Homo sapiens: one gene and its partners. The protein of the gene in region 4 interacts with the protein of the main gene of each other region in a pairwise test. Each region holds a gene or a part of one and is shown on either strand. Other genes may lie near its edges.

Region 1 (4,002 bases), on a different chromosome or scaffold from region 4:
AGTTCTGGGATTACAGGTGTGAGCCACCATGCCTGACCTCAAGCACTCTTCTGCTGAATAAAGGGGACGTGGCTGTCCTACGCCATAATGGGCATCAGGACGTCATACACAGAAGTGTTGGGAAATCACCTTACAAGGTACAGTCCTCTGCTCAGGGGGGCCAGGAGGGTCTTATAGGCATCATTCACCAGGGTCGAATGCTTCTCTGAGAAGTCCTTTTCAGTCTGTTAGTGGAGATGAAGATAGTACTATTACCATCCAAATCACAAAGTTTTTTTGTTTTTGTTTTTGTTTTGACGTTGAGTCATCCAGGCTGGAGTGTGCAGTGGCGCGAACTCAGCTCACTGCAACCTCCACCTCCCACGTTCAAGTGATCCTCCTGCCTTAGCCTCCCAAGAAGCTGGGACTACAAGCATGTGTCACTGCACTGGGCTAATTTTTATATTTTTAGTAGAGACAGGGTTTCACCCTGTTGGCCAGGCTGGTCTTGAACTCCTGACTTCAAGTGATCTGCCTGCCTCGGCCTCCCAAAGTGTTGGGATTACAGGCGTGAGTCACTGTGCCAGGCCCACAAAGTTTTATAATATTCTAATGGGCAGGCACCTAAGGAAGTGGTTAAGTAGAGCTGGTGTGGGATGAGGTGTCTTTATATTCAGCTGATAGGTTTTAAGTTATCTGGGAAGTCAGACAAAAGCTGTGAGTGAATGGCAGCTCTGGGTCTGACAGGCTGGGGTCAGACTGCCATGGGGCAGACACAGCTGATTTTCCAGCTCAGTCCCTGATAATCACATAACCACAAGGCTACTGCCACCCAGTGTGCACACATATTTGGGGATTATTGGGGTTGGCCAATAAGCTACCTGAGACCTCTGGCTGAAGAAATCTGGGTGGACAAGACGCTGCAGTTGCTGGTACCTGTGCTGGAGCTTCGCTGTATCAACTCTGAAGGAACGGTTGCTGGAAGGAAATTGGGAGATTAAATTTATACAACAAATATTTAAAGGTTTATCTACCATGAGCCTGGTTCTTGCTCTTATGGGGAAGATGCAATAACATATAAGCAGTTAATTTCAAAAAGTGGTAAGTCCTATGAAGGGACACAGAACAGAGTCAGAGAGTGTAGCAGATGTAGTGGACAAAGAGATGACACTCAGCTGAAACCTGAATGATGATGAGTAATCAAAGATCAGAGGAAAGAGACGTCCAGGTAGAATTGCAAGAGCAAGGACCTCGAGGTGGGAGCAAGATGGGGATGCCTGAGGAACTTAAAGATCAGCGTTACTGTAGCCCCTCATACATGTTCAGTGACTGGTGGGGAAGATCCCATAGTTAAGGAAAAGGGACATTCCTAAATTACACAGACAAAGATTCTTTGCCTGGCCAAACTTTAGTCAGATTTCTGAACCTTCTCCTAGGCCCAGATGTATGCTTTCTTGTAAAATACAGTTTTGGCAAATAATCTTGCCAAGTCAGTTTAGCTAGAATCCTCGATCCTCATATTTTTGATCATCCTAGATCTCTGATCAGATTCTTCATCCTCTACTATCCCCCAGGTGGTGTCTAAGCAGCCTGGCCTGTCTTCAGCAAGAATCCCGTTAGGTCGGCTTAGCCAGAATCCCGTTTACTCTGCTCCTTGGCTACAAATTTCCTTCTGCCCATGCCCTTTTTGGAGTTGAGACCAATCTCTCTCCCCAACTGCAAGACCCTATTGCAGTGGCCCCTCTACAAGATGGTCTTGAAGAAAGTCTTTCTGGTGCTTGAACAAGTGTGACTGAATCATGTTTTCTTTAATACCACCCTAACTTTTCCACGGCCCAGGTCCCTTCATCCCTGTCTCTCCCGGTTTATTTTAATTCAGCCCCTTTCACATTCTACTCCCAGAGTCTGTCCTATTTCCTTACCAGTTCAGCTCTATCCACACTGCCCCGTCTCTCCAAGAACCTCAGTCTCAGGGGGAAAAACCATTTATTGGACCCTCTCCCTCCAATTCTCACTTTTCCCTCAGGCCTCGCCCACAATATTAAGCTTTTCATGCTTTACTCCCTAATCTCGGATCACACTTCTGCAGTCCTTTCTTAAATACATCAACCCAACTTTAAACCTTACTCACCCTATTCATTCAAGTCTTCCAGTCTCCCAGGCCCTGCCCCTCAAGTACCCTTTCCTCAAGTTCCGCCCCTCGACTTCTCCTTCCCTTTCCCGTAGGTACCGCCCCTCAAATCTCCCTCCCCTCTAGCCTCGGCCCCCCTATTTCCTCTAACTTCAGCGCCCGCCCCTCCAGTCCCGTTCGTCTCCCTTCTCCACACCTCAACGTTGCTTCCCTCAGTCCCCGCCTCTCAATTTCCTCCTGAGAAATCAAGACACTTCTCTCACGCCTGCTCTCTAGACCTCCGCCCCCCCATCAGTCCCGCCTTCTCTTCCGCCAGCCAGATCCGTCCTCCCCTCTCGCAGGCCAGACCTCGACGTGTCTCTCGCCCGGGCCCGTTTCCCGAAACCGTCGCTCGTACCAGTCCATAAGGCTGAAGTAGTCTCGAGTGGGGTCAGGTGCCTGCAGCGCTCGGCACTGTGGGCAGAAGAACCTGTCCTCCCGCCCGGGGCCCCATGGGCCGCCGCAGTTCCAACAGCGGGGATAATTGCTTCCCGCCTGCGACGCAGCATCGCAGCTTAGCGGTCTCCTTCTGGGAACCCCTGTCGGCCAAAACCCCCACACCCGGAGCAAAGCCCCGGCTCTCCCCCGCCACATCTGGCCGGCGGCCTATCTAGCCGTGGTCACTCGTGGGGAAAAGCAAAGAGAGCGTCTAACCAGACTAATGTTGCTGATTGGCTGGGGAGTCGAGGGGGCGGGATCACCCGAGGGGAACCCGGGTTCTAAGTTCCGCTCTCCCTTCTAAACTACAACTCCCAGGAGGCATTGAGGCGGCGCCTGACGGCCACATCTGCTGCTCCTCATTGGTCCGGCGGCAGGGGAGGGGGTTTTGATTGGCTGAGGGTGGAGTTTGTATCTGCAGGTTTAGCGCCACTCTGCTGGCTGAGGCTGCGGAGAGTGTGCGGCTCCAGGTGGGCTCACGCGGTGAGTCATATGGGGAACTTCTGTTGGGTGTTTGGTGGTTCGAATCCCATCTTAAGCGTTTTGTGCGAACGGAGTCTCCTGAGCTTCGCTTTGTCTGTAGTTTTGAGCTGAAGGGGGAGTGTGTGGGCGACTCTCTTCCTTTTCAGTAGATCATCCTCGAGGTGAAGTTCACTTCCCGTATTACTTGCAAGCTGAAACAGGCCTGAACATACAGGATAAGAAGAACAGCGTTGTATTCTTCAATATCAGAGCGAAGTGACTTCGTAAAAATTCTATAGATGTTAGAAATCGTTGCCATTCTTTAGGTTCAATCTATAAAATACTTATAGAGAAGCCAGTCTTAGCTACTGGGCGCTGCAGGGACTGGAAACGCACTGAGCTGTGTAGGAGGATGTTCTGCGTGTCCCTAAATAAGTCCCTAAGTAAATGTATGGGATAGGGTGGCCAGAAGTGGGTAGGAGGGCATCAGTCCTCCTTCGGACTTAGGTTTTCTGCTTGAAAAAAATATTGTGTTTCACTTGAAAGACCTCTGGAATTTTTAAAAAAAATTATTTATTTTTGATATAAAGTATACATATATGATTACCATCTGTACCTTTTTTTTTTTTTTTTTTTTTTTTGAGACGGAGTCTCTCTCTGTTGCCAGGCTGGAGTGCAGTGGCGCGATCTGGGCTCACTGCAACTTCTGCCTCCTGGGTTCAAGCGATTCTCCTGCCTCAGCCTCCTAAGTATCTGGGATTATAGGTACCCGCCACCATGCCCGGCTAGTATTTTTAGTAGAGACGAGGTTTCACCATGTTGGCCAGGCTGATCCCGAACTCCTGACCTCAGGTGATCCACCTGCCTTGGCCTCCCAAAGTGCTGGGATTACAGGTGTGAGCCACCGCGCCCGGCCTATTTTCAATTTTTTGAGGAATCACAATACTCTTCTC
Region 2 (3,971 bases), on a different chromosome or scaffold from region 4:
ACACACACGCAGAGTAAGCACACAGAACAACCCACAAACCTGGTCACAGAGTGACTCATGCAGACAGACGCCCAGCTCAAATTCAGTAAAAAATGATACACATTTATAAAAATGATTACATGTGTTCACAGAGAGCCACACATAGCTACACTCAATACACACCCTGACATAGGCAACCACACCGCTCACCTCTCACAAAGGCACCTTCAGTACTTACACAGACACTCACACCCACAAGCCCTCAGACAGGCACCCTCTCCCCTCACTCCTAACATGGGCACCCTCACCTCTCACCCAGGTACCCTTGTTACTGGTGGAGGGTGTCCAGGTTCTTGGCATCTTGAACAAATAATTGGACAAAATGCACAAAGAAAAGAATGAAGCAACAAAAGCAGAGATGTATTGAAAATGAAAGTACACTCCACTGTATGGGAGCAGGCCGGAGCATAGGGGCTCAAGAGCCCGGTTACAGAATTTTCTGGGGTTTAAATACCCTCTAGAGGTTTCCATTGGTTACTTGGTATATGCCCTATGTAAATGAAGAGGACGAAGTAAAGTTACAAAGTGATTTACTCCATGTACGCCCTGCATAAATGGAGAGGATATTTCCTACCATAGCTGCAGTTTCCATTTGATTTACTTCTAGGAAGTCCTTAGGTTCCCTGCCTCCAGACCCGATTTTCTTGCCTCACCCTTACCCCTCACCCCTCACACAAACACCCTCAGCCCTCCCAAAGCCACCCTCAGCCTCACACAGCCGCCCTCACCCTCAGCCTCACACAGGCACCCTCAGCTCTCACACAGGCACCCTCAGCCCTCACACAGCCGCCCTCACCCTCAGCCTCACACAGGCACCCTCAGCCTCACACAGGCACCCTCAGCTCTCACACAGGCACCCTCAGCCCTCAGCCCTCACACAGCCGCCCTCACCCTCACCCTCACACAGGCACCCTCAGCCTCACACAGGCACTCTCACCCTCAGCCTTCACATTTCCCTCACCTCCAAGTCCCGCCTTTCGCGCATCGCCTGCTGCTCTCCCACTCAGCGCCACCTCAGTCCCACAAAGGCCGGGCTGGGATCCTGTGGCCTCCGTGCTGACCAACGTCAACTACAATTCCCAGCAGGCACCGCGCCTGGGTACACTTGAGCTTCCGGAGGACGCCGGGAATTGTAGTCCTGGCGGGCGTGGGCCCTTGAGGTGTGCTGGGAGCTGTGGTCCGGGTCGGCGGGCGCGCAAGTTGGCTAGTCTCTGCGGCCACCTCCGGAAGGGTCCGCCGGCTGTGCTGGTGAGGTGGGTTTCGGGGGTGTTCTCCGTCCTGATCCAGGCTGGAGAGGGGCACAGCAGGTCCAGAAGCCGCGAACCTCTGGGGCGGCCAGAGCGAGATGCGGGGTACCGCCCAGCGGGTAGAGAGTGAGAGGCTGACTAGGGGACGTGAGTAGACGGACTGCGAGTGCCGGACACACGCGCAGAGGATGTGACGGACTGACGGACCAGGCGTGGACGGACCGTGTGTGCACGGACTGACGGACCCGGTGTGGACAGACTCACGGACCGAATGTGGTGCGGAATGACACACTGAGTGCCGGACGGACCGACGGAGAATGTGTCGGACTGACGGAGTGTGTGTCGGATGGACTGATTGACCGGGTGTGGGGCGGACGAAGTGTGGAGCGGGCGGACAGATAACAGATAAAATGTAGGACCAGTGGCCTGGGAGGGTGTGGGGCGGACCCGTTTATGTGTCTGATAGGCGGTTCTGTGTCTGACACCTCTTGGGTGTGTGTATCTGACGGGTTGGAGTGTGTGATTCTGATAGGTTGAGTGTAACACTAACCATGGAGTGTGTGACTGACAGAGATGGTTGCCGTTTGAGACTTCCTACGTGGGTTGTGAGATACTGTGAGAGGGTGAGCGTGTGACGGTGGGATTTCAAGTGTGACTGATTTTCTTTGTGTGTCCTTGAGATGGTGACTAAGATTATGAATGACTGTGATCAGAATAATACTGTGTGATGGAAATGCTGCGAGGGCCTGTGTTTATTTTTGAGACGGAGTCTTGCTCTGTTGCCCAGGCTGGAGTGCAGTGGCGCAATCTCGGCTCACTGCAACCTCCATCTCCCGGGTTCAAGCGATTATCCTGCGTCAGCCTCCCGAGTAGCTGGGATTACAGGCACCGGCCACCACACTTGGCTAATTTTTGTATTTTTGGTAGAGACGGGCTTTCACCATGTTGGTTAGGCTGGCCCGGAACTCCTGACCTCAGGTGATCCACCTGCCTAGGCCTCCCAAAGTGCTGGGATTATAGGCATGAGCCACCATGCCTGGCCAGGCCTGTGTTTATTTGACTGATTATAGGTGACATTGAGATATTTCCTGTGTCTGGGTATTTTGAAGGCTGTGGCTGACAGACTGTACCTGAGATAATATGTGTTAATATCTGATTGACTGAGATTTTTATCAGGGAGACTAAAACTTGGGTGATCCACAAACAGTTTACCAAGCATATGAGAGAGGATTTGTGCTTTGCCATGTCTGCAGCTGAAACTGAGTGACTAGTGGTCATTCAGCTGGGCTTATGGATATGTCCCCCAGTGTTTGCTTACGTGTAGCAGGGGGCTATGGTATCCATACATCTACTGCATGTTTACTGTGCACCAGGCCTGTGCTGGACACTTATAATAAATCACCTCACATAATCTCATAGCAACCCTCTGAGGTAGGTACCATTATCAGGCTTGGTATAATCCATGTGTGAGAAATGAAAAGAACCACCCTCCTTGGTTGGTAAAGCAGCTGTGGATGGGGAACCTCAACCTGATAGGAGTTGAGGTTGGCTGAGGAGGCTGAGGAAGTTTCACATACATGTATTTCAGAGACCGTCATGAGGGATTTCTCCAGAACAGGTGTTCCAGGGGTGCAAAAGAGAACTTGGAAGCTGTTGCAGCATCTATTGTCATCCCTGCCACCCTTGCTCCTCCTTCCCCTCATGATTCCCTACATTCTTGGGTAACCATGCTCAGCCTTTACTGGTCATTCCATTTGCTTAATGCCTGCTTATTGTGAACCTGCTATAGGGCAAGTCCTGTGTGCTGTGGCTCCAGGACAGCCCAGCCTCTCTGAGGAAACAGTACAGAACTAGCAAAGAGTTACCCAGGGCACTCTGGGAAGAGGACTTAGACTAGTACCAGGTATCTGGGATGACACCTGAGGAAAGTGGCAGCTAAGATGAGGCCTAGAGAGCCCAGAGGAATCCGTCAGAGACGGATTTCAGAACTCGAGAGCAGCAGGGGCGACAAGGGGCTTAGAAAGGCCACAAGAGACCCAGGAGAACTTTACAGTGCGGCGAAGGGGCTTAAACGCAGCTTGGCCAGAGGCCACCAGAGGTCACCAGCGGTCACCAAAAGGTTTCAGGATTGGGGTCTTGTTTTAGAGTAACGTTCTCTTCTTCCTGTGCCCAAGGCCATTGCTCTTTCTCAGGCCTCCTGCATCTCTGTCCAGGGTGACTTCCTTGAGCAGAGACTCCAGGCACACTGAGCGTCCTGGCTGACATTGAAGGAAAGGAAAAAGAACTCCAAATACTTAAAACTGTGGGAGTCGTGGATGGGAGAGGGAGAGGCTAAGTCTTTGAGTAAGGAGTAGTATGTGGCCAAAGCAAAGTGTCGAGGTCTCCTAGGAGAGGTTACACTTAATTTAGGGTATTCTTCCTGACTATAAGAGAAAACAAATTCACTGTGGGAAGTAGAGAATGTCAAGAAAAGTAATACAGTAGTCACCCCTCATCTTCAGTTTTGGTGAATATAGTACAATAAAATATTTTGAGAGAGAGAGAAAGACCACATTAATATAGCTTTTATTACAGTGTATTGTTATAATTGTTCTATTTTATTAGTCATTGTTGTTAATTTCTTACTATGCCTAACTTATGAACTTTATCAAGGGTATATAATAAGAAAAAAATATAGAATATATA
Region 3 (3,500 bases), on a different chromosome or scaffold from region 4:
CTCAGCAGGTGGCTGGGAGTCCCCAGGGTTTTGAAGGAAGAGACATGATCAGGCTGTCATTTTAGACATACCAGCCATCCTGAGATGGACTAGGCAAGGCCTCTGGCCTCTCAGCTTCCACAGCAGTAGAAGTTGAGAAGATGGGTTGATAAATACCTTCCAGAGGTGACATCCAAGGTAATTTAAATAACCCATGTCCCATGAAGCGTTTGATCTTTTCTCCCAAATTCCAGGTTGCTTTTACCAAAAGCACCAGGTGCAGTGGCTCATGCCTGTAGCTCCAGCACTTTGGAAGGTCAAGATGGGCAGACCACCTGAGGTCAAGAGTTCGAAACCAGGCCAGGTGCGGTGGCTCACGCCTGTAATCCCAGCACTTTGGGAGGCCAAGGCGGATGGATCACCTGAGGTCAGGAGATCAAGACCAGCCTGGCCAACATGGTGAAACCCTGTCTCTACTAAAAATACTAAAATTAGCCAGGTGTAGCCGGGCGCGGTGGCTCACGCCTGTAATCCCAGCACTTTGGGAGGCCGACGCGGGCAGATCACGAGGTCAGGAGATCAAGACCAGCCTGGCCAACATGGTGAAAGCCCGTCTCTACTAAAAATACAAAAAATTAGCCGGGCGTGGTGGCAGGCGCCTGCAGTCCCAGCTACTCAGGAGGCTGAGGCAGGAGAATGGCGTGAACCCGGGAGGCAGAGCTTGCAGTGAGCCAACATTGCGCCACTGCACTCCAGAGTGGGAGACAGAGCAAGACTCCGTCTCAAAAAAAAAAAAAAAAAAAAAAATTAGCCAGGTGTGATGGCAGGAACCTGTAATCTCAGCTACTCAGGAGGCAGAGGCAGGAGAATCACTTGAACCCAGGAGGCAGAAGTTGCAGTGAGCCGAGATTACACCATTGCAGTCCAGCCTGGGCAACAAGAGCGAAACTCCATCTCAAAAAAAAAAAAAAAAACCAAAAGGTGAGTTCGAAACCAGCCTGGCCAACATGGTGAAACCTCAACCCTACCAAAAATACAAAAGTTAGCCAGGCGTGGTGGCACACGTCTATAATCCAGCTACTCAGGAGGCTGAAGCATGAGAATCACTTGAACCCAGGAGGCGGAGGTTGCAGTGAGCCGGGATCAACCACTGCACTCCAGCCTGGGCGAGAGAGCAACATCCTATCTCGAAAAAAAAAAAAAAATACCAAAAGCTGTTTTAAACTAAGGCTCCAGGGCTGGGTGAAACAGATGAGAGCATTTGGGTGCCCGTTGTGCTCTGTGCTTTTCCATTTTCCCTGGCAAGGCTGTGAGCAGGAGCAGGCAGCGACTGTGTGTCACTTCCCTGTGTAACCCCAACACCTGCGCAACCACTTCCACAATAACTATTCAACCATTCAGAGCAAGTCATGACAAACTTTTTTTTTTTTTTTTTTTGAGATGGAGTCTCGCTCTGTCGCCTGGGCTGGAGTACAGTGGCGCCATCTGGGCTCAATGCAAGGTCTGCCTCCCGGGTTCACGCCATTCTCCTGCCTCAGCCTCCCGAGTAGCTGGGACTACAGGCGCCCACCACCACGCCCGGCTAAGTTTTTTGATTTTTAGTAGAGACGGGGTTTCACCCTGTTAGCCAGGATGGTCTCGATCTCCTGACCTTGTGATCCGCCCGCCTCGGCCTCCCAAAGTGCTGGGATTACAAGCGTCAGTCACCGCGCCCGGCCGACAAACGTTTGACAGTTCCCTCTAAGGAGGGACCCGGGAAGACAGCACAAAGGTCCTTCTCCTTTCCAGAGGGTGGGGGAGGGCAGAAGCAATGGCCAAGACCTGCCTGGACTCTGGGCCCTTTAACTCTTTTCCCTTCTAAAGTGGGAATCACTTACACGTCTGATGCTGAGGCTGGGACTACCCCTTGATCGCTGGTAGGGGTAGGGAGGATTTTGTAGTACCCAATTTGGGGAACATGGAATCAGCTTGGGCAGAGACTATGAGAGGGGACAGCAAGACAGGGGTCCCCTCTACAACCTATCTGGGTCATAGTTCCTAATCCTGGCCGCTCAGAGTGCAATTTTTAAATTTTTTTATTTTTATAGAGATGGTGGGGTCTCACTATGTTGCCCAGGCTGGTCTCAAACTCCTGGGCTCAAGCAATCCTCCCACCTTGGCCTCCCAAAGTGCTGAGAGTACAGGTGTGAGCTACAACACCCAAACCCAGAATGCAAAATTTTAAGAAGCACATTCCTGAGCCCCACCCAGGTGGAGTGACTTCCCACCTCTGAGGAAGGGCCCAAGAAGATGTGTTCTTTGCAGCTTCCACGGGTGATTTCCAGGTAGCTGAGCCTGTATTTGCAAACCACAGATCTTGACCACCTCCTCTTTTCTGACTGGATACGTTAGAGCCTGGGCTGAGCCCCTGCCCCCTCATCCTGCCCTATCTCAGTAGCAAGTTCTCATTTCCAGGTCTAGCTATCAACTCAAGTGGACAATGCAAGTGTCACTAGACACAGTGAATGTGAGTAACATGCTCAGCCATACACAGAATCTGCAAATCTAAGCCATAAAATTCAACCTTCTGGCCAGGTGTGGTGGTTCACACCTGTAACCCCGACACTTTGGGAGGCCGAGGCGGACGGATCACCTGAGGTCAGGAGTTCGAGACCAGCCTGGCCAACATGGTGAAACCCCGTCTCTACTAAAACTACGAAAAATTAGCTAGGTGTGGTGCCTGGTGCCTATAATCCCAGCTACTTGGGAGGCTGAGGAAGGAGAATGACTTGAACCCGGGAAGGGGAGGTTGCAGTGAGCTGAGATCCCGCCACTTCACTCCAGCCTGGGTGACAGAGCGAAACTCGATCTCAAAAAAAAAAAAAAAAAAAAAAAAAAGGCCAGGCGCAGTGGCTCATGTCTGTAATCCCAGCACTTTGGGAGGCCGAGGTGGGCGGATCACAAGGTCAGGAAATCGAGACCATCCTGGCTAACACAATAAAACTCCATCTCTACTAAAAATACAAAAAAAATTAGACGGGCGTGGTGACAGACACCTGTAGTTCCAGCTACTCGGGAGGCTGAGGCAGGAGAATGGTGTGAACCTGGGAGGCGGAGCTTGCAGTGAGCCAAGATGGCGCCACTGCACTCCAGCCTGGGCGACAGAGCGAAACTCCGTCTCAAAAAAAATAATAATAATAAAAAAAAACAGGCCAGGCCCGGTGGCTCACGCCTGTAATCCCAGCACTTTGGGAGGCCGAGGCGGGCGGATCACGAGGTCAGGAGATCAAGACCATCCTGGCTAACACGGTGAAACCCCGTCTCTACTAAAAACACAAAAAATTAGCCGGGCGAGGTGGCGGGCGCCTGTAGTCCCAGCTACTCGGGAGGCTGAGGCAGGAGAATGGCGTGAACCCCAGGGGGCGGAGCCTGCAGTGAGCCGAGATTGCGCCACTGCACTCCAGCCTGGGCGACAGCGAGACTCCGTCTCAAAAAAAAAAAAAAAAAGAAAAACAACCTTCCTTCCATTGCAATCCCAGCAT
Region 4 (3,500 bases):
GGAGCCCTTTAGCCATTTGTATGTTTCCTTGAATTGTCTTTGTGTTTTTGTTCATTCCCTTAATGCATAGAGGTGATTTCTAACCTTGCAGGAAATAAGGAAGGCATTATGGTGAAAGAGGGTATGTGTTTTTTTTTTTCCTTTTGAAGGAAATGGTCAAAGATAAAAGATTCCAAATGTGTATAACTTAGTGTCAAGATATTCTGAAAATTAATGTAATATTTAAACACTAGAATTACAGAAAAGAAGATCTGCTCACTAGTATGAAAATTTTTAATATTTTACATCTTTGGCTGTAGGCTGTAAGAAAAATCTGTATAATAGGTGATATTTATACAATTTGATTATGCTACTTTGGAATCAACGACCTATAGAAATGCTATGGATGACCCATTTTATTCAAAGTTACTCTATTCATATAATATTCATTTTTCCTAATAGTTTTGAGCAGTAATACAAATTTCAAGTTTATTCGTATCCTGTTAATACAAATAACTACATTTGTGTGGTGATGTATTACAGCATATCATTTATAAAGTGCCATACACAAACCACATACTATTTGATTCTGATGAGAATCACATAACCATTAAGCTGTGTTATATAATGGAAAATATTTTTGACTTAGAACTAAGACACCTGATTTTTCTCTGAACTTCCTCATTGGCAATGAAAGTTTTGAACCAGGTAGACCTCTTCTAATTATTAAGTTATGATTTCTGAGCGGTAGTGCTAGGACTGAATTCATTTCTAAATCAGTGCATTTTCTACTTGACTGACTATAACAGAGATTTTGTTGTACTTCATTCTTACCACTTTCTAAACTTAATTTGGTTATAACTCTTAGGCTAGACAATCATCTTTCTGAGAGAATAGGAATGTCCTCAATTTATCTAATAGAATCCTAAATGCAAATTTTAGATTTAGTTTATTGATATTTTATTTTATTTGCATTGTATAGTACTATAACACTGGTTTTTCCCTATGAAAAATATTATAAAGCAAGTTTAGTGAGTTACTATCCTGAGTAAACATAGGTGGTTATTTCTTCGATAAATTATGTATTTCTTGGGAAGTTACTTAACATTTTTTTAAATTAAAATAGCCAACTTTATAATGATTTAGGTATATGTTTCTAATTATAATGTTATTATTTTGAAAAAATCATATTTTTAGTAATGGTAAGCCTGTTGGAAATCTTGCTGAGTGGCACGTTAGCAGAGCAAAATAAAAATAAATAAGAAACTGAAAGTGAAAACATTTAAAAAATAAGACAGGCATGGTGGTGCATGCCTGTAGACCCAGGTACTCAGGATGTTGATGTGGGAGGATTGCTTGAGCTTAAGACCAGCCTGGGCAAGATGGTGAGACCCTATCTCTTAAAAAATATGTATTTATATATTGTCCTATTATATTTAGGGTTGGATTTGTGTGGGGGAAAGGCAGGAAGTGTAGGGTATAGGGAATAGACTCAAGATTCTTTGCACTTTACATTTGGGACTTTTATTTTAATGTTACTGCCCCTCCCCCCAACCCATGAAACACCTAACCTTACAACAAAAAATATCCAGAAGCTTAATAATTATTTATTTAACCGTCACTAAGGTGTAGGGAGATGTGCAGAATTCCAGGAAGGAGTCTTTTCCTAATTAGACAGTCAGAGCCTCATTCCAGATTTATTATTCCTTTGGTAGGGTTCCAGCATGTATATTTTGATAGAGAGCTCCCCAGATTCAGGGATACGTCCTTGATTCAGAACTGCCGAATGAAATAGCACAATTACTTTATCTGTCACAAGTGAGCCATGATTAGATGTCTTTTGAGAATATATTTCCTTTAGAATTCCTAATATGAGAAAGTTAACATACTTGTCTGAAATGCCCGCTCTTCTTTTATATTAGAATATGGATATATCTATAATTTTTAAGAATGCCAGATAGTAAGTCTTAATGATAATAGGTCACCTAGAAAGTTGTAGACAGAATTATAAATCACGATAGACAAGGACCAGCCCTGGCAAACAGCTAGAAATCCTCGTTTTCCCTAACAGACTTGCCCTAAGAAAAGATGCTGAGTTAGTGATCCCCTTAGTCCTGAACACCAGAATGTCAAAACAATTGTTTTCTATTAATGTCTTGACGTGAAGGGTTAGAAAGTACTAGACTATATGATTCAACTTTCAAAAGAGTATTGTGATATGAAATAGAAGTAGTGTGCTGGATTCTGGGAGAGGAGTGTGTGATTGTGTATGATAATATGTGTATACATATATGTAGAGATATAAAATTTTGAGTTTACATATTTAAAATATGGGCCAATAGTGAGCTTTGATTTTCAACCTTTTTTTCTGTTGCTGTACCATTTGTATGTAGGCTGTTTGGAAAAAATTGGTGAGAGTTTAAAAAATCTAATTGCTTCTTTTATTGGGGTTTGGCCATCAATTTTTTGCCATTTAGACAGATTATAAAATGTGAGTTGACATGATCAAAGTAGAAATTCTTAATAGTGAAATACTTAAAGATTTAGAGAAAAAGAATATCCTTTTACAGAGGTGAGAAGTAGGGTAGAAGGAGGAAGTGCTGTTAACTCCATTAACTTTCGGGCTCTGTATGGTTTAAGTGTAAGTACATTGTCTGCAAAAATTGAAGAGTTTATATCTCCCAGTTATCCAAGACAAGTATGTTTTCTGCTCTTGAAGAACTTTTCTGTTTTTACCAAATTGAGACAATATTGAAATTATACTTTGTACAACATAATTAAAGCTCCATTACTAACACTGTAATTATCTTATTTTTAAATGTCCTAATATTTTAGGTTGCAGAAGTTTTACAAGTACCTCCAATGAGAGTATATGAAGTAGCAACTTTTTATACAATGTATAATCGAAAGCCAGTTGGAAAGTATCACATTCAGGTCTGCACTACTACACCCTGCATGCTTCGAAACTCTGACAGCATACTGGAGGCCATTCAGAAAAAGCTTGGTAGGGAATACATGATATTTGTAACACTGATAAAAAGTAGAATTGTCTCTCTAGATTTGGTACATTTCTATCTAAAATTTCCAACTTCTGCCATCTTATTGGATCTGTACTTACCTAGTAATATTTTGTGTTACTGTGTTTCCACATCTTTATTTCTTCCTATTTGGTATTCTTCCTCAGTTCTTAGTGTTAAAGCTGAGTTTTTAATTTTTTCTTTTTTAATCAGTATGTTTGAAATGCTTGTAGAAGTTATAAAATATTCGTTGTTTAGAAGATTGTTTCACTTAGAAAATTGTTTCACTTACTATTCTATGACAGCATGTGGTATATTAAAAAGTGACCCATTATTGTCTTTATATTCTTCTAAAGAAGTCATGGAACAAATAAGATACAAGCATAGTAAGAATGCTTTGGGAAGGGAAATTTGAAACAGATGTTATTACAGTAGCATTTGAAAAGTAAATTAGCATTTTAAAAGTAAATGGGCATTTTCCCCTACAAAACTGCCATTGCTACA
Region 5 (3,121 bases), on a different chromosome or scaffold from region 4:
TTACTAAATCAAAGAGATTTTTGCCCTAGGAAGGTTAACTAATAAGAGACTTTTTTTCCTAGGGTTTAAAAAATGTTAAATCACATTTTATGACAGTCAATTTTATATCCTAATGGAATCTCTTCTGGTAGTGAGAGAAGTTCCAGATTTTTCGTTGTAAAAATAGTCATATAATGGTCTAATATCCAGTTCTGTCACATTTTCTCATTACCTATCCCTCACAGGACTTTCCCTCAAGTCCCTACCTGTCCCCTCTGCCCCACACTCTGGCCCGGAGCCAGAGGATTGGCTCTGGGGCAGCAGGAACCTGTTGTTTTAGGAGATGGTGACCTTCGAGGATGTGGCTGTGCACTTCACCAAGACAGAATGGACTGGCCTTTCTCCTGCCCAGAGGGCCCTGTACAGAAGTGTGATGTTGGAGAATTTTGGGAACCTGACTGCTTTGGGTAAGGCCATTTTCCTCCTAGGACTCAGATCTGTACTTTTCCAGTTTCCTTCCTTCTTTTACAGCCTGGGGGGAGGAGTGTGGAGTGGAGAGGAGAGGTTGTCTCTTGTGTCCTCCACTGAGTGACTGCAGAGCTGAGGCTCAGTGACCAACTTCAAAGATTGCTGGGTAGGGAGAGGTCTTGGGTCACTTTGGTCTCCCAATGAAGGGAATTACTGTCCCCTGGTAAGAGTATGTTCCATCTTCCAAGAGGCTCTGCACAGTAAGGAATAAGTAGTAGTTGTTGTCTGGGGAAGGGCATGTCCCCTTCCCTGTGTTTGCTCATGCCTTGTGGATCTCACTGACTTACTTATCCTTGAGTGTTTTTTTTAGGAAGAAGTCACAAATGCTCAGTTTCCTGTTGATCGGAATCTCTTTGGCCTTCTCCAGTCGAGAACCCTCTTCTGTGGGTCTTATTCTTACTGAGACTCCTGGGGTTTTCCTTCTTTTGACACAGCAGATACAGGGCTGAAAAGTACCATTTTCTTCCTGTTTTCAGGGTACCCAGTTCCCAAACCTGCACTGATCTCACTTTTGGAGAGAGGGGACATGGCTTGGGGCCTGGAAGCACAGGATGATCCCCCAGCAGAGAGGACCAAAAACGTCTGTAAAGGTAGGTGAGGCAGATTTAGAACCAACAATTGTAGCGTTTTATGGAGCACTGTATTTTAAAATGAATCATGCTGGGCAGGATTTAAATAAAATAGATGATTTCACCTAATAGGTAAAATATGAAACGTTTCTCACCAATCTTAACTCTTACCAACATGTAATCACTCAGTACGTCTCATCTGCAATCCTTGAATCCATTGTTCCTTTCTGAGTTTCAACATTGCCTACCTTAGTTGTCCTCCTTGGTTGGGATGGATTTATTCAGGAGCAGTTTTTGAGCAACTTGCCATGTGCTGAACGTTGTTTAAGAAGTTCTGGCAGGTACAAGTTATGGAGACAGATGTAAAAAGCGAAAAAGAAAAGTATTAAGTGCTGTTGGGAGTGGGACGGAGAATGTGAAGGTAAAATGGGCCAGATCTTCCCAAAAGTTGGCCATAAATGGGGAGAGCTGAGTCAGATAACACTAGGAAGTCATGGCATGGGAGGAGCTTTTTGAATTCATAGGAATTCAGAGCTGAGCACAGGGCGTGAGGTGCCTTTAGAATAGGCAAGTGGATGGCTAGAGCAGGCCATTGAGAAGGTGGGTGGAGAGTCTGAGATAAAAGGCAGGTCTGAAACAGTACTCTAACACAGCTGGGTTGAAACGATCCCCAGGAAGAAAAAATGAAGGCTGAATCTTAACCATTAAGGGATATTTAATTTCAGTGAGAGAAGGAAGAGAAAGTAGACAGTCAAATAGATGGGGGCCACCAAGAGCAAACAGTGAAATTGAAGGCAGAGGCAGGAGTTTCAGTGCAGGTGGTTTGCAGAGAGCAAATACGTGGAAAATAATGAAGCTAGCACAGCACTTCAGCCTCTTATTCTAAGAATCTGAAAAAGAATCATCAAGACAATTGAGAACCTGTTGGTTTGTTCTCACACGCTTCCTCTGTCTGGTGATTATTCTTTTTCAGACTCTTGGTTACCTTGTTTACTTCAATCTCAGATTACTCTCCTCTGAACATTCTCCTTCGGAGTTCCCTTACTCCTTTAACTCACACTCATAGGATGAACTTGATTAACCATCACATGAGTCCCAGGTAACCCACATTAATGTTAAAACCAAGCCCATCATTTCATATAAAATGGATTGACTTTAACTCATTTAAAATGTCATCCAATCTTTTGGAACACAAATGCCATTTTATGGGCTGTTTGTCTCCTTTTTGCTGATAGGAGAAAGAATACTCTCAGTCTGGGTGTGTCTAAGTAAACTGTTCATCCCTTTTCAAATAGAGAGTCTAGGACAGTAGTTTCTCTGCATGTTTGAGGTTCAGCAGTTTTAGGGCGTTTCCTCATCGTCTATAGTCCATGTGTGGTTCTGCAGTTAAGAACCTCTGAACTAGGTAATCTTACAACATATTGGGAATAATACTCTCTAAGCACTTCTGTGATTTTCTTTCTCTCTGTCTTGCCACAACCCAGTGTCTGTAATGTTCAGTGTCTTAAGTCTTTTGGGACATCTGCAGGGTATGAGTTTTTAAAAAGAACAACAATTCATCCTTTGCCTTTGCTTTCTGATACTGTTCTGTTTCACTTTCTGATTCTAAGTCTTGCCAGCCCCGATGTCACTACTTGTTCTTAAGACCTGTGCCTTCTTTGGCATTTTGTAGGCTGTAAGTAGCATCAATTCAAAAGATACTAGCTCATGCCAGGGATGACCAGACATCATTCAAATATTAGAGTAGAAAAGCTTAGGAAGCAGTCTCGTGTGTTGTGTCCACTGATACCCTGTTCCACCTCAATGTTCTCTGCCTGTGTGATATTTGGCACTTTCACTTTAACAGCCTTTTCTTCCCAGCATGCTGATGTGAAAGTTGAAATGATCTCTTTTAAAGCCTTATCATTTTCAATGCTCTATTATTTCTAGTATAGTTCTCAGGTGGCATTATTTGTGTTTTCTATCTCTTATGTCAGATGTTGAGACCAACATTGACAGTGAGTCCACATTAATCCAGGGAATTTCTGAAGAAAGAGATGGGATGA
Region 6 (2,792 bases), on a different chromosome or scaffold from region 4:
GAAAAAGCAGGGGAATGCATGCTGTTCCCATTGTATAGAAACAGACACTGAAGCCCAGAAGAACACGGAACTGGGTATAGGTCCTCCGGGTTCTCTGTTGTGACAGAAAGAGATAAGGTGATGAACCTCCCTGAGAGGAAGGCGGGCACTCTCCACCCATATGTTATTACCCCATTTCCCCAAACTCATCTCTGGGTCTCACATCTTCCCCAACAGTCTGGGCCTTATCCCAACTCTTCACCGAGGAAAAAGGCCATTTTCAGTTGTGCAGCATTTTAGAGTTAGAGGTTCACACACGGTTCCTTATTTTTCAGCAGCGCCGTGAGATAAGCAAAATGTGTACTCTTACTCCAGTTTTTACAGATGCAGAGCCTGGGACACTGGGCTCAGGCTGGCGAAGGCAGCTTCAGGGCACAGCATTTCAGTGTTGCATCCGGGATTGTGACTCAGGCTCTTTATCATCCCGGACTTCAGGATCAGAGAGAGGTTTACAATGCAGATGATGTCTACCTCCCTGGATTCTTTTTTATTGAAGTGAAATTCACATGATACACAATTAATCATTTTAAATGGAACAATTTGCGGCGTTTAGTACATTCACGGTGTTGCGCAAGCATCACTTCTATTTTCAAAGATTTTCCCTTTACCCCCTCCCTGGGCTTTTGTGCAGCATAAAAGAGACCATCTGTGGAAGGCCTCCAGCACGGGGCCTCGCCCCTAGCAGGGGCTCAGTGAATGCAGCCCATATTTTCAGACTCTCTCTAGTTTTCCCTCAGAAACCTGGGCATATAGAAATAGGAATTTTTTCCTAAATTTAGCACCTTGAGAAAATCAGGTTGAGAATATAGGAGGTATTTGTGTCCCAATCATTTTTTATTCCTTTTCCCAAAATGACATGTGAAGGTTGCTCTCCCCCAAGAAACTTTCCCCGAAGAACCCTTTCTATTCTTTAAAACAATCAGACACATTTACCTACTGATGCCCTAGTAGTTACACATCATCACGTGGCTTCTTGGTTATTGAAGGAGTTTGACCTCTCTGCCAGGCTGCGACATGCACAGCCTAGGAGGCACCTCAGTGCTTCGCATTGTCCTGGATACAAAACAGTTGCTTAATAGGTATGTGTTGGATTGGACTGAATGGCAACCAGCCAGCTCCAAAATTCCAGCCACCACCTGGTGACCAGCATTTTTTCTGCCTTTGAAATAGTGGGTTTGGTGACTTGAGGATATGCTCGTGGTGGCAGGCAGTTTGGGCTCTGGTTGGTCGTGGCTTGGGCAGCCCTGCTGGAGGCAGGCCACAAAAAGTGGCAGCTCCCACACCTGGGCTGCACAAGAGATGGAAGGTGAGTGCTTCACGCAGGCAAACCCAGGAATAAAATAGCTTTGGACTTTATTTAAATGTATCCATTCCAGGAGCATAGGCCTGGAAGAAGCCCAGGCCCCAAGAAGTTGTGACTGTCCCCTGGGCTTCCTATGGCACCAGGCATTGAAGCATGTCCTGGTGGCCGGGAGTGGCTGGGGCAGAGGGCGGTGAAGAGAGTGGCTATAGGGAGTTTAGGGTGAGGACCCACCCCCGGGCCTAGAGGGCCACAGTGCGCAGGCTCATTGGAGGATCTTCCCTCCGGCCACCTCTCCTGCACCTCCAGACCACTGTCCCGATGATGCCCACCACAAGGCCGACTCCCGCTGCCACTGGGACAGCCCAGTAGAGCACCTCGGGGGCTTCTTCAGCCTGGTCTGGGAGCAATCGGCTGTTCCGCAGGGTGTAGAGGTAAGGGCTCTCCTGTGGAGGAGGAGCGGGGGTCAGTGGAAAGGATCTCCGTGAACCATCCATCACCAAGCCAAGACTTGCCTAGTCCCCATTCCTGAGATGCTGCGATAACCCTGCACGTTTTCACAGAGCTTCCCTTTTGTAAAGCTCCCTCATTTAGGCTGTGCCCAAACCCTCTTTAGCGGGATGGGCCTCTAAAGAGGTCAACACCCAGCTAGAACCTTCTTTTGGTTTCTCACCAGCGTTTCCTTGGCCATCAAACCTGATTTTGAAAGATTGGGAACTGATAGGTGACCAATGGCAGAGAGCCCTGTGGGGCCTGTAGAACTCCCACCTCTGCTTCCTCGTGGTCACAACTGTCCCCATTCTCCCATCCCAGGACTACCCAGAAATCAGGGAAGGGCAGCATGGAAGGACAGCTGGTTTTGTAGTAGATGAAAGATCCCCAAATCAGAAGGGCCGGGAGGGGAGGCATGTGGGCAGATCGTGTGCGTTCTTGCCTTCCTATGCCCCTCTCCACTCTCCTCTCAGTGAATGTGAATTGGGCACGTGCTGTGTTTAGCCCCCTTGCTGGAAGCTGTGATGAGACTGGAGGGTTAAGATGTGACATCTTTTCTTGTGGCCCAGGAGGAAGTTGAGATGTGCAGAAACAATCACATCATAAAGGAGACTGGGTCGGTGTCTCATGAGAGGTACAAATAGAAAAGGAGACCCACATGGGTCAGTGTCTGGAGACAGGAATGGTAGGTAAGAGACGGTGAAACCATCGCTTAGTAAAGGCAACATCTGGACCTGGAGGGAGGCGGATGTTCTCATAGCAGATGGAAGATGAACCTCCAGGAACAGATGGCAAAAGGAAAGGCCTGGATGCGGGCAGTCGTGGGGCTTCCTGGGAGATGGATCCACCGGCCAGGAGTGCAGTGTGTATCATGGAGGGAGGTGACCCTCCCTCCAGACTCTGGTCAATGGGCAGTAGGGATCAGGCAAGGATTTCAAGCAGCCTTGATGGGGCAAGTTAT
Region 7 (3,500 bases), on a different chromosome or scaffold from region 4:
TTATGATCAGTACTAAGTTTCCTGGCAAATACCTGTCTGGATACTTCTGAGACTGCATTCAAGTTTGTCAGTCTTGACTTCCTTCTAACTTTTACTTTGATTATCAACCTTTACCAGAGAGGTGAGCACTACAGGTGTTCTGATTGCTGCCACTACAGACTATTCCCTCCCCATTATTGTCAATACTCCTTTCAGAGTAGTGCCTTCTAAATATATAAGGGTAAACTTACAAGCCGTCTGAGGTTTTATCGGCTAATTTCCCCAAAGCAGATCAAATCCTCTTTTTGAACCCCTTGGTACGATGTACTTACTAATAATGCTTCAGACTTGTATTTTATTTTATTTATTTCTGTACTTAAATTATAACGTCTCAAGGGTTAAATCCTTTTATGTATTTATTTATTTATTTATTTATTGCTTCTCTTCTTGCACTGTACCTTGCCCTTCAGTAAGCATTTCTTTTTCATAGTTGAAGAAATGTATTGGAAGAAGGAACAGAGAAACCATTTACAAAAGAAAAGAAAAACCATTTACACAGATTATCTCTAATGGATAAAGGGAACTTTATCATACACACACACATACATACATATATGAGCATGTATATTCTAATAAGCAAACTGCAGATGACAAATTCTAAGTGCAGAATTATTTAATACCTCAAATCTTCCAGTCCTATCATCTTCTCATGTAACTGCCATGTTCTGCCTATGCGTTCATCCTGCCTTTCCCCCACTCTGCCTCTGCTACTCCTTCAGGTCTCACTCTTCTCTTGTGTGCTCCTTTACCTTTCTGATCTCCTTTTCCACTGTACTCTGCCCAGGGCTCCTGACTAGCCATAATAGAGCAAGCTGTGGCCCACCATTATTTAAAATTCTGTTTCAAATTATTATGAATTTACTTACTTTAAATATAGATACTTAATTTTATATTATGTAGTCAAAATCTTAAAAGTTAAAAAATGTATCCGACACCTGTTAAAGGACCATGGCAGTGGGGCTGATTAGATCTGTATAATGCTGAAACCCTGATTCCTCCTGTTCTCTCAATCATTGAGTATACTAGCTTTGCAGGGTTGGCGTGTAGGCTTCTTGGACTTTTATTTCATGAAATAACCACTCTTGTAGTAGGGTTTTTTGTATGATTAAGCTAAAACCACTGACCAACCAAGTTCGTAATCCCTCAAAAATATGTGGAAATATTTATTTCACTTCTCTGAGCCCTAGTTTCCTCATCTAAAAGATAAGAATAGTAGTAACACCTATTGTGATATAGACAAGGAATCACTCAGTCCCTGGTAGACCTTCAATAAATATTGTTAATGATTCCTTTTTATTTGATTCCAGATTTAATATTTTTTTCTTGGCAAAAGGAAGTTTTGTTTTAAGCAGGGTTTTTTTTTTTTCATTTAATTTTGGACAGTGTAAGGAGTTTCTTCAAATGGCTTTATGAGTAAGTTTGAGTTAAAGAAAATTAGATTTGTGATACCCTGCAAAAAGTAAGGGTGTCAGAACAAACTTTGATTTTATGAAGCCTGCCTAGAAGTCTGAGGCAAACCACAGGAATGTAAAGTGGTAGAGAAGTCAGCATGATTTCTTTTTTTAATGTTTGCGGTGAAAAGTATGTCATATACCTTTCTTTCTTTGAGACAGGGTCTTGCTCTGTCAGGCTGGAGTGCAGTGGCGCGACCACAGCTTACCACAGCCTCTAACTCCTGGGCGCGACCATGGCTTACCACAGCCTTTATCGCCTGGGCTCAAGTGATTCTCCTCCCTCAGCCTCTCCAGTAGCTGGGACTGCAAGCACACACCACCATGCCTGGTTAATTTTATATTTTTTGGAGAGACAGGGTCTTGATGTGTTTATAATACACTTTTCAGTGATGACTCCTGAAGACTCATATATCTGCATTTCATGAAGAAGTTAACCTTATTCACAGAAATTTCTGTTATTTGGGAGTTGTTCTGTAACTTTGCATCCTGCTTTATTTTTTCACTTAACATAGCATTATCAACAAAAAAGAATCACTGTAAAATAAATTTGGTAATTCTGTAGTTCATTGGATATTTATTGGTCATTCCCCGCTTGATGGCATGAAGTAAGCTCATGTGTCTAAAGCACTTAGAACACTCCTTATACATAATAAATACTATACTGTGTATATGTTTGGTCAAGATTATAATTTTTAAGTTGTTTTTCCAGTTACTAAGTTTTATTCATATGTCCAAACAATATATATGTGTAGTCTTTCTGTATTTGTTACTGTTATTTACCATCTTTATCAGTGTCATTTCATAAAAGGACTGGTTTGGAGGCAAGTACTTAAGGAGGATTGGGAACTTATTGATTCCTCCCATTATGAGTATTTGAGGGAGAGCACCTGTGATTTTTTTTTTTAAGGAAACATGAGCTTTGAGTGTATTGTTCCAATAAAAGGTTTAAACATGTGACATTAGAGTCCGTCTTAATCCAAAATTGTCTGGCTATATGGAGTGAATTGTCATGGCTTTCATATACTGCTATGAGGTAAAATTAAACTGCACTTCCTAACATTGCTGGAATTGCTAAATTTCTGGAATGTATTCCCTTCACCTTCTTCAAGGTGCTAATTAGAAACAGGTAAATTTTTGTTTAAGTAAATACAGTGCAATTCTTTGTGAATTCTATGGTATTCATGATGATTTATTTATTTACTTGTTTAAGATAGAGTCTCATTCTGTCACCCAATCTGGAATGCAGTGGTGCGATCTCAGCTCAGTGCAACCTCTGCCTCCTGGGTTCAAGCGATTCTCCTGCCTCAGCCTCCTGAGGAGCTGGGATTACAAATGTCTGCCACCACACCCAGTTAATTTTTGTATTTTTAGAGAGAGGGAGTTTCACCATGTTGGGCAGGCTGGTCTGGAACTCCTGAGCTCAAGTGATTGCCCACCTCGGCCTCCCAAAGTGTTGAGATTACAGGCATGAGCCACCACACCTGGCCATCATTACAATTGTTTTGTTTGTTTGTTTGTTTTGTTTTGTTTTGTTTTTTGGAGACAGAGTCTCACTCTGTCATCCAGGCTGGAGTGCAGTAGTACGATCTCAGCTCACTGCAACCTCCGCTTCCCGGACTCAAGCAATTCTCCTGCCTCAGCCTCCCGAGTAGCCGGGATTACAGGCGCACACCACCACGCCTGGCTAATTTTTGTGTTTTAGTAGAGACGGGGTTTAACCATGTTGGCCAAGCTAGTCTTGAACTCCTGACCTCAGGTGATCCACCCACCTTGGCCTCCCAAGGTGCTGGGATTACAGGCGTGAGCCACCACGCCTGGCCCATTACAAATTTTTTAAGCATGATACAGTCACATGGCCAGAGTTAATAATCACTAGAATGAAGAAGTATTGGCATATTAACAAACACATTTGCTTTTTCCACTTAAAATTAGACTCATCCATCTCCCCCAACTCAAAAATGAAACAAAGATGGAGGGAGAACGGAATTGGGAAGGTAAGTGTCAGTT

The links.
Region 1: the proteins of NDUFV2 (region 4) and HSCB interact in binary tests that used the Homo sapiens proteins (3 or more experiments, as listed by UniProt).
Region 2: the proteins of NDUFV2 (region 4) and ZSCAN22 interact in binary tests that used the Homo sapiens proteins (3 or more experiments, as listed by UniProt).
Region 3: the proteins of NDUFV2 (region 4) and SMARCB1 interact in binary tests that used the Homo sapiens proteins (3 or more experiments, as listed by UniProt).
Region 5: the proteins of NDUFV2 (region 4) and ZNF19 interact in binary tests that used the Homo sapiens proteins (3 or more experiments, as listed by UniProt).
Region 6: the proteins of NDUFV2 (region 4) and PLB1 interact in binary tests that used the Homo sapiens proteins (3 or more experiments, as listed by UniProt).
Region 7: the proteins of NDUFV2 (region 4) and API5 interact in binary tests that used the Homo sapiens proteins (3 or more experiments, as listed by UniProt).

The regions. Positions count from the first base shown.
Region 1 is NC_000022.11:28,740,837-28,744,838, reverse strand, and holds the start of HSCB (iron-sulfur cluster co-chaperone protein HscB isoform 1 precursor), read right to left. Parts: upstream 2,801-4,002; 5' UTR 2,744-2,800; coding exon 2,508-2,743; coding exon of another isoform or gene 2,459-2,507; intron 2,159-2,458; exon of another isoform or gene 2,111-2,158; intron 958-2,110; coding exon 861-957; intron 225-860; coding exon 135-224; coding exon of another isoform or gene 130-134; intron 1-129.
Region 2 is NC_000019.10:58,325,823-58,329,793, forward strand, and holds the start of ZSCAN22 (zinc finger and SCAN domain-containing protein 22), read left to right. Parts: upstream 1-1,171; 5' UTR 1,172-1,292; exon of another isoform or gene 1,293-2,717; intron 2,718-3,971. UniProt on the Homo sapiens protein: May be involved in transcriptional regulation.
Region 3 is NC_000022.11:23,796,966-23,800,465, reverse strand, and holds part of SMARCB1 (SWI/SNF-related matrix-associated actin-dependent regulator of chromatin subfamily B member 1), read right to left. Parts: intron 1-3,500.
Region 4 is NC_000018.10:9,119,699-9,123,198, forward strand, and holds part of NDUFV2 (NADH dehydrogenase [ubiquinone] flavoprotein 2, mitochondrial precursor), read left to right. Parts: intron 1-1,566; exon of another isoform or gene 1,567-1,758; intron 1,759-2,814; coding exon 2,815-2,983; intron 2,984-3,500.
Region 5 is NC_000016.10:71,476,204-71,479,324, reverse strand, and holds part of ZNF19 (zinc finger protein 19), read left to right. Parts: intron 1-319; coding exon 320-446; intron 447-983; coding exon 984-1,097; intron 1,098-3,052; coding exon 3,053-3,121. UniProt on the Homo sapiens protein: May be involved in transcriptional regulation.
Region 6 is NC_000002.12:28,641,851-28,644,642, reverse strand, and holds the end of PLB1 (phospholipase B1, membrane-associated isoform 1 precursor), read right to left. Parts: intron 1,786-2,792; coding exon 1,582-1,785; 3' UTR 501-1,581; downstream 1-500. UniProt on the Homo sapiens protein: Calcium-independent membrane-associated phospholipase that catalyzes complete diacylation of phospholipids by hydrolyzing both sn-1 and sn-2 fatty acyl chains attached to the glycerol backbone (phospholipase B activity).
Region 7 is NC_000011.10:43,314,996-43,318,495, forward strand, and holds part of API5 (apoptosis inhibitor 5), read left to right. Parts: intron 1-3,425; exon of another isoform or gene 3,426-3,487; intron 3,488-3,500. UniProt on the Homo sapiens protein: Antiapoptotic factor that may have a role in protein assembly. Negatively regulates ACIN1. By binding to ACIN1, it suppresses ACIN1 cleavage from CASP3 and ACIN1-mediated DNA fragmentation. Also known to efficiently suppress E2F1-induced apoptosis.